Linked DNA regions of Homo sapiens. The protein of the gene in region 2 interacts with the protein of the main gene of each other region in a biochemical or structural test. Each region holds a gene or a part of one and is shown on either strand. Other genes may lie near its edges.

Region 1 (6,516 bases), on a different chromosome or scaffold from region 2:
TTGTATTTTTAGTAGAGATGGGGTTTCACTATGCTGGCCAGGTTGGACTCAAACTCCTGACCTTGCGATCCACCCATCTGGGCCTCCCGAAGTGCTGGGATTACAGGCGTGAGCCATCACGCCTGGCCTTATGTTGTCCTTTTACAAGTGTTTCTGGGATGTGCCCATGGTGAAGGCAGTAACGCCAGTACCTCATTTCACGCACTTGGATCCTGCCTACCCCCAGTAAGTGGGAGAGATTGGGCCAGATAAGACCACACCATTGGGCCAGGCACAGTGGCTCATGCCTGCAATCCCAGCACTTTGGGAGGTTGAGGCAGGTGGATCACCTGAGGTCAGGAGTTTGAGAGCAGCCTGGCCAACATGGTGAAACCCCGTCTCTACTAAAAATACGTGGTGGCACACATCTGTAATCCCAGCTACTTGGGAGGCTGAGGCAGGAGAATCGCTTGAACCCAGGAGGCAGAGGTTGCAGTCAGCTGAGCCGAGATCACACCATTGCACTCCAATCTGGGCAACAAGAGCGAAATTCCTTCTCAAAAAAAAAAAGTGAGTACACCATTGAATCTTCTGTTGTTTAGGGAGATGAGAAAGGTCCTGAAGTACCAAAAACATAATGATTTGGACCTTTCTCTTGTCCTCAACTCTGATTTGCATTTACCTTCAACTATCAAGTCACATTCTGCTGTCCGAAAATCCAAATCTAGTCTACTAGCTAGATTACACTTCATTAGAGGCAGGACTTTGGTTTGTCTATTTGCCTCTCCTTTTCTTTAGGTCATGATACAGTGCCTGACATGCGGTGCAAGCATGGTACTTGTATTTTGGTGCTGTCCCTGTAAGTCATCCAGAGGTATCCCCTGTAGGGTGTCTAGCACATAGTAGGTGTTTGTTAATTACTTCTGGTCTATAAGCAGTGAAAGCATGATAAGGTAACAGCAGTGAAGAAAAGTAACAAACAGTTCCTAAACTAGATACAGGATATCTGTTTAAGCCATTTAAGACAGCATTTTCTTGAATTTTTGCATGGGTCTAGCTAGAGTTCTTATGTAGCGTAAGCTTGCAACCAGAGAATGCTTAATAAATGTTAATTGCTGTCTGACTCCTCTGAATGTGGTGTGTGAACTGATACCTTTGGATCCTCATGCCTCATTCTGTCCCTGAGACTTATTCTAGATGTCACTTCCCCTACTTCACATTATACACGAATGTTCTGAGGACATTTGAGATGGAATCTAGCTCACATTTTCAGCACTAGTTTCCAAGGAACACAAAGAAGTCCAGTGACATGATCCAGGCTCTCAGCCTTACAGATCATCATGTAGATTAAGTGGCCGAGGCTCTTTCCTATGCAGAAACCTTCCTACAACCAAGGTACCCCTTGTTATTATTGTCTTCCTGCAACTTTCATAATTGATAAGGGAATTAGACAGGTAAGCTAAGCTAGGTATTCTCATTTATAATTTTTCAAAGCCACAAGAATAACCAGGAGACAGGGATGATGTCTATGGACATTGCTACCAGAGGACTGATTTGTAGGTTCTTATGGTGCCACATCATGTAATCCCCTTAATCTTGATTCCTTTATTCCTTTTGTTTACCATTTTCCTCAGTTCGCCCAACCAGAAAATAAGAAAAATAGCACTAACATTTATGAAGCTCTTAATATATGCAAGGTACTTAGCTGAACATTGTTTTCCAAAAGTTCTGTGTGATACAGATGAGGATGCTAAGGCTTAGAGATGTTAAGCAACTTGGTTAGCCCAAGGTCACGTGGCTAATAAGTGACAGACCCAGGACTAGGGCCTAGGTGGTCTGACTCTTTTTTTTTTTGAGACGCAGTTTCTTTCTTGTCACTCAGACTGGAGTGCAATGGCACGATCTCGGCTCATTACAATCTCCGCCTCCCAGGTTCAAGCGATTCTCCTGCCTAAGCTTCCCAAGTAGCTGGGATTACAGGCACATGCCACCATGCCTGGCTTTTTTTTTTTTTTTTTTTTTTTGAGACAGAGTCTTACTGTGTCTCCCAGGATGGAGTGCAGTGGTGTGATCTTGGCTCACTGCAACCTATGCCTCCTGGGTTCAAGCAATTCTTCCGTCTCAGCCCCCTGAGTAGCTGGGATTACAGGCGTGCACCACCACGCCTGGCTAATTTTTTGTTTTTAGTAGAGACAGAGTTTCACCATGTTGGCTAGGCTGATCTTGAACTCCTGACCTTGTGATCCACCCACCTTGGCCTCCCAAAGTTGCTGGGATTACAGTCATGGACCACCGTGTCCAGCCTAATTTTTGTATCTTCAGTAGAAATGGGGTTTCACCATATTGGTCAGCCTGGTCTCAAGCTCCTGGCCTCAGGTGATCTGCCTGCCTCGGCTTTCCAAAGTGCTGGGATTACAGGCGTGAGCCACCACGCCCGTCGTGACTCAGTGTTTCTTAACCTTTTATTTTTTTTTTCTCATCATTGCACCCCTAAGGAGAAAGGTTAAAAGTTAATGTAAATTAATTAAATTTTGGGGCTGGGCAGGAGCCTACCATCTTAAAGCTAAGCTGTAAGTAGGCCAGGGGCAGTGGCTCACGCCTGTAATCCCAGCGCTTTGGGAGGCCCAGGTAGGCGAATCATGAGGTCAGGAGTTCGAGACCAGACTGACCAACATGGTGAAACCCCATCTCTACTAAAAATACGAAAACCAGCTGGGTGCGGTGGTGGGTGCCTGTAATCCCAGCTACTCAGGAGTCTGAGGCAGGAGAATTGCTTGAACCCAGGAGGCAGAGGTTGCAGTGAGCCCAGATAGCGCCACTGCACTCCAGCCTGAGCGACAGATGAGACTTCACCTCAGAAAAAAAAAAAAAAAGCTAACCCGTAAGTAAAGAACAGAGCTGTGCAGATTGGAGGATTGGGTCATACCATTACTTGGTACCTTCCAGGAATATTTGGGTATCTATAAGGATAGTTTGTAAACCTTGACCTGATCCAGTCTTCTTCTTTTGCAGCTGAGGAGTAATATAAGTCCCAAGAGAAGCAACTTGCCCACATTTGCACAAGTCAGTAAGGCACAGTTTAAGCTATCATCATATCATGAGTTTCATAGCCTCTCTAAAGAGTTGAGAGTCCTGTTATTATGTCTAATATCAGGCCTTTGTCCAGGAGAGGCAGCTAGTGCCTCATTTTTACGAGGACATGAAATATAGATTACGTTGCTTACTTGGGTTCACCTAGCAAGCTATTGGTAGGCGGCTTCCTTGGTACACCAGGCTTCAGAGATGGAAGTGCTCAATGTAATGACTCGATACTTCTTTTCTAGGAGATCCTAAAATGTTAGTGTTAGTTGCAGAGATTTTTGTAGTTGTTGATGTCTGCCCCCAAAGAAGGATATTAGTTGAGTTAGAAATGAGATGGCTAAGGACTTGATTAATTCATACTATCACCTAATATCACAGGACTCAAACTCTGACATGGGTGTTTAATAAAATCAACAGACCTGTAAGGGTTTTCCAGTTACAGCTTCCCCGGTTTTTCTCCCATCATCCCTAATCAACTGATGGAGTCATCATTTCTATATAACACAGCTTCCCAGGGGCTTCACTGAAAGCACTCAAGCTCATCAAATGGCCAGGGCAGCCTGTCATGACAAATTAGTGCATGGTCTGTCAACAGCCATCTATCTCTAGCCAGTAGTGCTCTGTACCCCCAAGACCATGTGTCAAATTAAGTGAATTAATGAAGACACATAAAACCCATTAGTCTCCTATGGTATTTAAAATGTAAGGGCCAGGCACGGTGGCTCACGCCTGAAATCCCATCACTTTAGGAGGCCGAGGTGAGTGGATCAGGAGGTCAAGAGATCAAGACCATCCTGGCCAACATGGTGAAACCCCATCTTTACTAAAAATACAAAAATTAGCTGGGCATGGTCGCGGGTGCATGTACTCCCCACTACTCGGGAGGCTGAGGCAGGAGAATTGCTTGAACCCGGAAGGCGGAGGTTGCAGTGAGCCGAGATCATGTCACTGCTCTCCAGCTTGGCAACAGAGCAAGACTCCGTCTCAAAAAAAAATAAAATATAAGGTATGGCCGAGCACTGTGACTCACGCCTGTAATCCTAGCACTTTGGGAGGCTGAGGCAGGCGGGTTGCCTGAGCTCAGGAGTTTGAGACCAGCCTGAGCAGCATGGTGAAACCCTGTCTCTACTAAAATACAAAAGAAATTAGCCGGGCATGGCGGCGTGTACCTGTAGTCCCAGCTACTCGGGTGGCGGAGGTTGCAGTGAGCCGAGATCGCGCCACTGCACTCCAGCCTGGCGACAGAGCGAGATTCCTTCTCAAAAAAAAAAAAAGAGTTTCATAGTCTACCTCAACTGTGTCATAGCAGCAGACATGGCTGAGAATCCAGCATTCTACATGAATTGCAAGTCATTGGATAGAGGGTAGGCAGGCCCTGAGCACATTCTTAGGTGTTTAGTAAATTATTGATGATAGATCAAATAGGATAATTGGTAAGATAAATGGCTAAACCATTAATCCAAAGGTTATAAAATGGTCTTTTTTTCTTTTTTTGAGATGGAGTTTCTCTCTTGTTACCCAGGCTGGAGTGCTGTGGCGTGATCTCAGCTCACTGCTACCTCCGCCTCCTGGGTTCAAACGATTCTCCTGCCTCAGCCTCCTGAGTAGCTGGGACTACAGGCACGCACCACCACGTCTGGCTAATTTTTGTATTTTTAGTAGAGACGGGGTTTTACCATGTTGGCCAGGCTGGTCTCGAACTTCTGACCTCAGGTGATCCACCTGCCTCGGCCTCCCAAAGTGCTGGGATTACAGGCATGAGCCACCGTGCCCGGCCTATAAATGATCTTTCATAAGTGCTAAGAGATAGGGAAGAAACAGTGCTGATCTGGGCCTCCCAATTAAGGAGATAACTGGTGTTTGGACACATTTACAAACCCATTTATTGAGTTCTTCAAATACTAAGATGAGAATTTGAACTCTGTGACCAATTTTTTTTTTTTCAAGAGATGGGGGTCTCGCTATGTTGCCTACAGTGGGGTACAGTAGCTGGCTATTCACAGGCATCATCATAGCCCACTAGTCTCGAACTCCTGGGCTTCAGCAATCCTCCTGCCTCGGCCTTCGAGTAGTAGCTGGGACTAAAGGCACATGCTACCACACTGGGCTTAAATTTTTTATCTTAAGTCACTCTTGGTTCAGGCTCAAAGACTTAACAACTTCTCTGTTCTGTTTTCCAGAGAGATGGCTGCCCAAAGATTGTCAATCTGGGGAGCTCTAAGACAGACCTCTTCTATGAACGCAAAAAATACGGCTTCAAGAAGAGGTGATTGGTGGGTGGCCCCTTCCTCCCCCCAACATCAGTCTGCTGCAGCTGCCAGAAAACATGCCTACTACTACCAGCAGAAAGGGAGCAGAGCCCAGAGCATCACCAGGAGTGCCTGCTAGTGTACTGGCAGCTTGCCACCCCCTCCTCTCCCTTCACCCAGACACGTGGTAGGGATGGAAAAGGATTCTTCACAGAGCACTCTGGCACACCATATCGGAGAAAACTTGATAGATTAGTTAATGGTTTTTCTTGAATTCGAGAAGCAAAGATCTGTTCTCCATATTGGTATGTTCTCCCTCAACCAAGATCTTCTAAAAAGAAATAATATTTTAGTCTTCTGCTTGAGGAACTGACTGTGAAGCGACGCCCAGTGAAAAACATGTTCTTGCAGCAGCTCTGGTGGCAGCTGTCCTTGAGGAACCTTTGGTGTGTGGTGGGAAGCTATCAGAACAAGAAATGTAGGCATTTCCCGTTTTTTTTGGGGGGGGGGTGGGGGGGCAGGGCTCTGCCCTCTTGAAAGGCATTTACTTGTTTAACACTTGTCCAGCTACAGTGGGGTACAGTAGCTGGCTATTCACAGGCATCATCATAGCCCACTAGTCTCATATTATTTTCCTTTTGAGAAATTGGAAACTCTTTCTGTTGCTATTATATTAATAAAGTTGGTGTTTATTTTCTGGTAGTCACCTTCCCCATTTAACTTTAACTCTAGGAATTTATTTTAGTCACCCAGGAATTTGTGATTCAAAACAGAGGTAGTGGGATTGGTTAAGTACTTTGTCCTCTTATTACCACTGGAAGGAATTCAAAACCACCCATACCTTTCATTATAGATAGATCAAAGTCATCTTTAGAAACGTACTATTTTTTCCTTCCTGTCCAACTTTAATTTTGAACTGAAGAGATAGCTTCCAGTTATGGTGGAGGCTGGGCACAGTAGCCCATGCCTGTAATCCCAGCACTTTGGGAGGCTCAGGCAGGCGGATCTTGAGCCCAGGAGTTCAAGACCGGCCTGGGCAACATGGCAAAAACCCATCTCTATGAAAAATATGAAAACTAGTCAGGTATAGTGGCATGCACCTGTAGTTTAGTCCCAGCTACTCAGAAGGCTGAGATGGGAGGATCCCTTGAGCCTTGGAGATTGAGGCTGCAGTGAACAGTGATCCCGCCACTGCACACCAGCCTGG
Region 2 (6,909 bases):
TAGTAGAGACGGGCTTTCACTATGTTGGCCAGGCTGGTCTCGAACTCCTGACCTCAGGTGATCCACCTGCCTCAGCCTCCCAAAGTACTGGGATTACAGGCATGAGCCACCATGCCTGGCCTCCATTTTTTATGTGAGTAGAAAAGGAGAGATGAAACCAAAGCTAGAAAGCCTATGATTCCAATAACCTAGTGCGGACACTTCCTAACTTCTATGTGAACAACTAGCCTAGGTTGGGCCTCCTGTATTCTGTTCTCAATCGTGCCTGGGTGTCAGTGGGACTGTACTTATTTTGGCATGACAGGAGACGCTAGGTCATGGTGCCCCATTTCCCTCTTGCTGTAGCTAGGCCTCATAAATGGTGAACTTCATACATGCTATCATAGAGTTCTGCTATCTAAACTCCATTTACAACAGTTCTTCAAGCAGTGTTTCTAATTCCAACCTATAGATTTACCACTTGCATCTGTATTTATATCCATAATCCCCAAATATACCATGGTATCTTATTTAGCACCAAGCTGACTAGCATCACAAATCTGTTTCCTATGGAAGGTGCTGGAGTTAATCTTATTCTAGACTGCATAGGCGGATCCTACTGGGAGAAGAACGTCAACTGCCTGGCTCTTGATGGTCGATGGGTTCTCTATGGTCTGATGGGAGGAGGTGACATCAATGGGCCCCTGTTTTCAAAGCTACTTTTTAAGCGAGGAAGTCTGATCACCAGTTTGCTGAGGTCTAGGGACAATAAGGTGAGTGATGAATGAAAAGAAAACATGTGATTTAACCCAGAAAAGTGTGGTTCATTTACATTACCCCGAGAAAGGAAGCTCTACCTTAGATTACGGAGGTTAGTTTCTATGAAGAAACCTCCCCCTCTGAAGATAAAGAGGGAACCCGATTTCAGAGAACTGATTCAGATTGGTTGATAGAAGCTTCAGTATCATGAAAAGAAGTGTAGCTGATACTTCACAGGTTATCTGAACATTCTAACAGAATGAAGAAAGCACTGACTATATTAGGAAGTATTTCGAGTAGTTCCAAGACTTTGTTTTCAAAGGCAGAATTCATCTCAGTGTGCTAGAAAGTCTCTTAGGTGAGTAAAAAAATAAGTAAGCCTTGGCCTTCAACAGATTATAGGTTCCATGCCGGGCACAGTGGCACTTGCTTGTAGTCCCAGCTACTTGGAAGGCTGAGGCAGAGGATTGCTTGAGTCCAGGAGTTTCAAGGCTGCAGTGAGCTATGATTGCACCTGTGCATAGCCACTGTACCCCAGCCTGAGCAACATAGCAAAACCTCATCTCAAAAAAAAAAAGATTATATGCTCCTGAAATATTCCATCTGGCAGTCTAGCAGGTACCACCTTTGGGAATGTTTCCACCATAGGGTTTTGCACCAGCTGAGGGACAGGAGAGCTTAAGCATCCTTTTTTCACTAAGCCTATATGAGTCCTATCTGTGGCTGCCTCCTGGGTAAAGACACTTTATTTAAAAACAATTCTTAGGCTGTCAGTGACACTAACATTTTACTCCAGGCTTCAGTCTTTATCTGGTACAGAACAGAAGTTACACATTTGGAGGTACAAGGGAGCCAGAGATCACCTGTAACCCCCCTTTAGCTCCTATGTGGTCTCTTCAGCTGGCTCTAGAAACCAAATTGATACCAGCAGATTGACAGGAGAAAAGCATGTACTTTTTTTTTTTTTTTTTTTTTTTATGGAGACAGGGTCTTACTCTGTCACCCAGGCTGGAGTGCAATGGCACAATCAGCCTCCTGGGTAGCTAAGACTGAAGGCATACCACCATGCCTGGCTTGTATTTTTTATAGAGACAGGTTTTCACCATGTTGCCCAGGCTGATCTCAAACTCCCAGGCTCAAGTGATTCGGCCAAAGTAAGATGCTTTTGTAATTTTTAGACAAAGAACAATAAATTTGAGAAGAAATAAGACAAAATCTGGCTAGGGATAGTAAATTTCTAGGGAAGTCACTAGGAGATATATGGGGGTGGGGGGTGTAAAACTAGTGGAAGATAAGGGTTACTTCCTTAAGTGTATTTATTCAGTTCCATTGCAGCCCCGTTTCCAGTCTCTGGTGATAAGGGCTTTTTGCCCTAGTATGGGGAGGGTACCCCTCTCAGAGGAATCTTTATGACTTGCTACATGCAAGAAGAGACAGGTCAGCTAGCCTTTTCTGAAACTACAATTTCTCCAATGCTTTCACCTCAAAATTAACAATATACCTATCGGACATATTCTGAGATGGCACATGACTCCTTCAAGGGTATTTCACACACATGCTAGGAAGTGAGGGGTTAAGTGTCCCTGTGTGCTTTTTCAGATACGTGGCTTCAGAGAGAGCAAGAAGGCTGAGGAGGATGAGGAGGGCAGGGTGAGGCTCTCTCCCCAGGCTGATGATCTCCTTTCCCTTGTCTTAGTACAAGCAAATGCTGGTGAATGCTTTCACGGAGCAAATTCTGCCTCACTTCTCCACGGAGGGCCCCCAACGTCTGCTGCCGGTTCTGGACAGAATCTACCCAGTGACCGAAATCCAGGAGGCCCATAAGTACATGGAGGCCAACAAGAACATAGGCAAGATCGTCCTGGAACTGCCCCAGTGAAGGAGGATGGGGCAGGACAGGACGCGGCCACCCCAGGCCTTTCCAGAGCAAACCTGGAGAAGATTCACAATAGACAGGCCAAGAAACCCGGTGCTTCCTCCAGAGCCGTTTAAAGCTGATATGAGGAAATAAAGAGTGAACTGGAAGGGTGGCACGCGGACTGGGGCCGCCGCGGCGGGGTTGAGGTGGGAGTCCGGACGGGCGTCGCAGCGGGGATTACTGAGGCCCGATCAGCTGACGCTCAACCTGAGGGCCCCTCCAGGGACGGAGATTCTGGGTATAGTTACAGCGTCAGCCGTGACACAAGCCGCCAGAACCCCACATATTCCGCCTTGCGCACAGCTAGAGGCCCAGGCCCACCACCTCCGGCACCTGCCCGCGCGCCCCGCAACCAGTGGGCACCACAGCAGGCCCCAGCCCTGCCCGCTACTCACCTGGGCCCCACCCCACCTCTCGCCGCCCTCCTCAGGCCCCACCACCTCCCGCTACACATCTGAGCCCCGCCCCACCTCCACCACTTTCCTCAGCCCCAACCACCTCCTGCTACACTTCTGGGCCCCGCCGCACCTCCACCACCCTCCTCAGGCCCCGATCCCTTCCGCTACTCACCTGGGTCCCGCCCCAGCTCAGTCCTCCTCAGGCCCCGCCTTCGCCCGCTACTCACCTGGGCCCCACCCCACCTCTCGCCACCCTCCTCAGGCCCCACCACCTCCCGCTACACATCTGGGCCCCGCCCCACCGCCACCACCCTCCTCAGGCCCCGCCCCTTCCATTACTCACTTGGGTCCCGCCCCAGCTCACCGCCTTGCTCAGGCCCGGCTCCCTCCCGGATACTCACTTGGGCCCCACCCCAGCTCTCCGCACCCTCCTCAGGCCCCGCCCCCTCCCGCTACTCACCTGGGTCCCGCCCTACCTGTCATAACCCTGCTCAAGCCCCGCCTCCTCCGCTCCCCAGTTACTCACCTGAGACCCGCCCCAGCTCTCCGCCCTCCTCAGGCCCCGCCCTCTCCACCCGGGTTCCTCTGCTCAGGGCCTCCCCGACCGGAACATCTCGCCTTTTGGAGGCTACGCCCCGCCCTTTACGGTACAGAGCCCGGAAGTGTCTTGGACTCTCGCCTTTCCATCTTCCGGCCTCGAGTCTCGCTCAGGCTCGGTTTTACCCCGGAGTCTATTCGAAGGGGGCTGCTACGTCAGCGCGTCTCAGCGTAAGACGGCGCTATTCCGCTGTAACAGCTTCCGGCGGGTCCTGGATGTTGATGTCCTGCATCTAACGCGGTGTAACCCCCGAAGCCGAGCGAGCTCCGGAGGAATTTCAGTATCTGCTACGGTAACTTCATCAGCCCGCCAAGATGGCGATGCAAGCGGCCAAGAGGGCGAACGTGAGTATCGGGTGTTCTGCGGAGGGTGGGAGAACTTCGGGTTTGACTTTCTTAGCGGCGTGGATCGGAGCATTCTTGCTCCTCCTCCGTCCCCAGAGCGGAGAACTCCAGAATTCCTATCCTGTCAGCGAAGACACTATCCGGCCCCATCCTCAGAGATATGCTCCTTGAGCCACATTTCTGTCCCCACCCCTTTTGAGAGTTCCTCAGTCTCTACCCTAGTGTCAGTGATAGTGTTACCCCTATAGCCTCTTTGCTTGACCCGCACCTAAGGACCTGGCGTTAGGATTATCTCCTTGACTTAAAGTCGATATCTCAGAAGAGTCCTCAACTAACTTAATGGTTCACCAACAACTAGGACCTGGGATTCCCCTCAGATCATGGTGCTTTTCGGATCCTTCATTAACACATTAATTAAAACAATATTTTTTGAGCACCTACTATGTATTCTGCTTGCCATGTGGGACATAATTCATCAATTATATTTATTGAATAGCTACTATGTGCCAGACACTAGTCTTACGTATTGGGAATACAGCAGTGAATAAAACAAGTCCTTCTGCTTACATTCTAGTGTTTGAGAGTACAGTGTTACGGAAACTTTTAAAAAAAAAAAACTCAAAAAAGAGATTAGTCAACAGTAAAACGCTTAGAGGTGTAAGATGAAGTTAGGCCGAGTGAGGTGGCTCATGCCTGTAATCCCCGCACTTTTGGAGGCTGAGGTGGGAGGATTGCTTGAGCCCAGGAATTCAAGGCTGCCTTGAGCCATGATTGTGCCACTGCGCAGCACTTCAGCCCAGGAGACAGAGCAAGACCCTGACTCAAAAAAAAAAAAAAAAACAGAAAGAAAGAAAGAAAGAAAGAAAAGACAAGCAATTGACCATTGTATATGTAAATGGAGACTTTTGGTGACCTTGATGATAGGAATCATTTCAGTGGATGAAAACTTGATTGCAGTGGGGTGAAAAGATGGTGGAAGTTGAGAAAATGGAAACAGCAAAGACACTCTGTCCATGAGTTCTCATTTAAATAGGAAGTAGGGAAATTGGATGATAGTTGACTTTTTTTTTTGAGATGGACTCTCACTCTGTCACCCAGGCTGGAGTGCAGTGGCACAGTCTTGGCTCACTGCAACCTCTGTCTCCTGAGTTCAAGCAATTCTCCTGCCTCAGCCTCTTGAGTAGCTGGGATTACAGGTGCCCACCACCATGCCCGGCTAATTTTTGTATTTTTAGTAGAGACAGGGTTTCTCCGTGTTGGCCAGGCTGGTCTCAAACTCCTGACCTCAAGTGATCCACCTGCCTTGGCCTCCCAAAACGCTGGGATTACAGGCATGAGCCACCGCACCCGGCCAGATAGTTGACTTTTTAAAAGATGTGTGATATAGGTGTATCTTTATGCCAATGGGAGCAATCCAGCAGAGTGTGCGAAACATGATATGGAAGAAAGATAGGTTGAGTTTAGAAGTGAAGGTTTTGAGTAGATGAAGGTTGGCGTAGTAATAGAGGGAAAGTAGTTGGATATAGATGAAAAGTATTTCAATTGGTCATGTCTATTTTCTCCAAGAAACAAGAATCAGGGTCATCTCCTGGGATGGGCAGGGAAGAGGGTACAGCCCAACTCAGGTGTTAGCAGGAGTGATGGTGGTAAGGTTTGCAAAGGCCTACACCCACCACCATGCCTGGCTAATTTTTTAAAATTTTTGTAGAGATGGGGGTCTCACTATGTTGTCCAGGCTGGTCTCAAACTCCTGGGCTCAAGTGATCCTCCCACTTTGCCTCCCAAAGTGCTGGGATTATAGGGACCAGCCACTGCACCCAGCCTCTGTTGCTTTTTCAAAGATCTGCCCATTTTCAGAAACATCAAATTATACCTCTTATTCTTGGCTTTTTATTATTACGTATCATTAAGAATTTTTTAAAATGCCCCTAATTATAGGGGCATTTAAATTATAATTTTTTAGAATGCCCCTAATTATAATAACAATACGTATTTCTCATTTTAGATTCGACTTCCACCTGAAGTAAATCGGATATTGTATATAAGAAATTTGCCATACAAAATCACAGCTGAAGAAATGTATGATATATTTGGGAAATATGGACCTATTCGTCAAATCAGAGTGTGAGTCTTACTGAGTCATTTAAAGAAAATGATAGCATAATCTGTAATTTCAGAATTATAGCTGACGATGAGGCCACCCTGTGCTGTGTGCAGTGCGACAACCCTTACCAAGAGCCTTGAGACTAGCAGATTGAGATCAGAGAGATGAGATCTTTTTGAAGGGGGGAGAAAACCTACTGAGACCCTAATGATCCAGCTCAATGAGAGCCAAGAAGAGGATTTGAGTTTCCTCAAAGCATTCATTGAAGTAGTAATGAATGCTTTGAGGAAACTGGTTGAGAAGGGAAAGAACTAACATTTATTGCATACCTGTTATTTGTAAAGCTAGCTTGTTACACTGTGTTTTTTGTATGCAGCAGCTCTATAATTTTCTCAACAATCATCACTGTCTCTTTAAATAACCCCAGAATTTCTGAATAAACTAAGTAAAAGAGTATAAAAGTAACAGAAAAAAATGATATTTTCAACTACAGCTCTTTCAATTGAAGATGTAAAAGTATAGAGGAAAACATCTAATTACAAGCATTCACGTTTTAATTTAATATAAAGATTGGGGTTCATACCTTCAAGTGATATTTACTGGACATCTACTGAATACCATTAACCATAATAAGTGCTTTTATTTGGATCAACAAAACTATAGCCCTGAGAGTAAAGTACCTTTCTATCTTACAGTGCTTAGTGGTAAAATCTTCTGACTCTAAATTGAACCTCTACATTACACAGTACCATAGCCTCTGACACCCGAACTCATATGAAAGGGCTAGTGACTTAAGAGTCCATCTGAAA

What was found. The genes of interacting proteins can lie anywhere in the genome.
Region 1: the proteins of SF3B6 (region 2) and PHF5A form a complex in vitro, tested with the Homo sapiens proteins (one study listed by BioGRID).

What each region holds. Positions count from the first base shown.
Region 1 is NC_000022.11:41,459,212-41,465,727, reverse strand, and holds the end of PHF5A (PHD finger-like domain-containing protein 5A), read left to right. Parts: intron 1-5,240; coding exon 5,241-5,330; 3' UTR 5,331-6,011; downstream 6,012-6,516.
Region 2 is NC_000002.12:24,073,287-24,080,195, reverse strand, and holds the start of SF3B6 (splicing factor 3B subunit 6), read left to right. Parts: upstream 1-3,869; 5' UTR 3,870-3,966; coding exon 3,967-3,996; intron 3,997-6,001; coding exon 6,002-6,120; intron 6,121-6,909. Other genes in the region: TP53I3 (quinone oxidoreductase PIG3), read left to right, coding at 556-752, 2,435-2,617.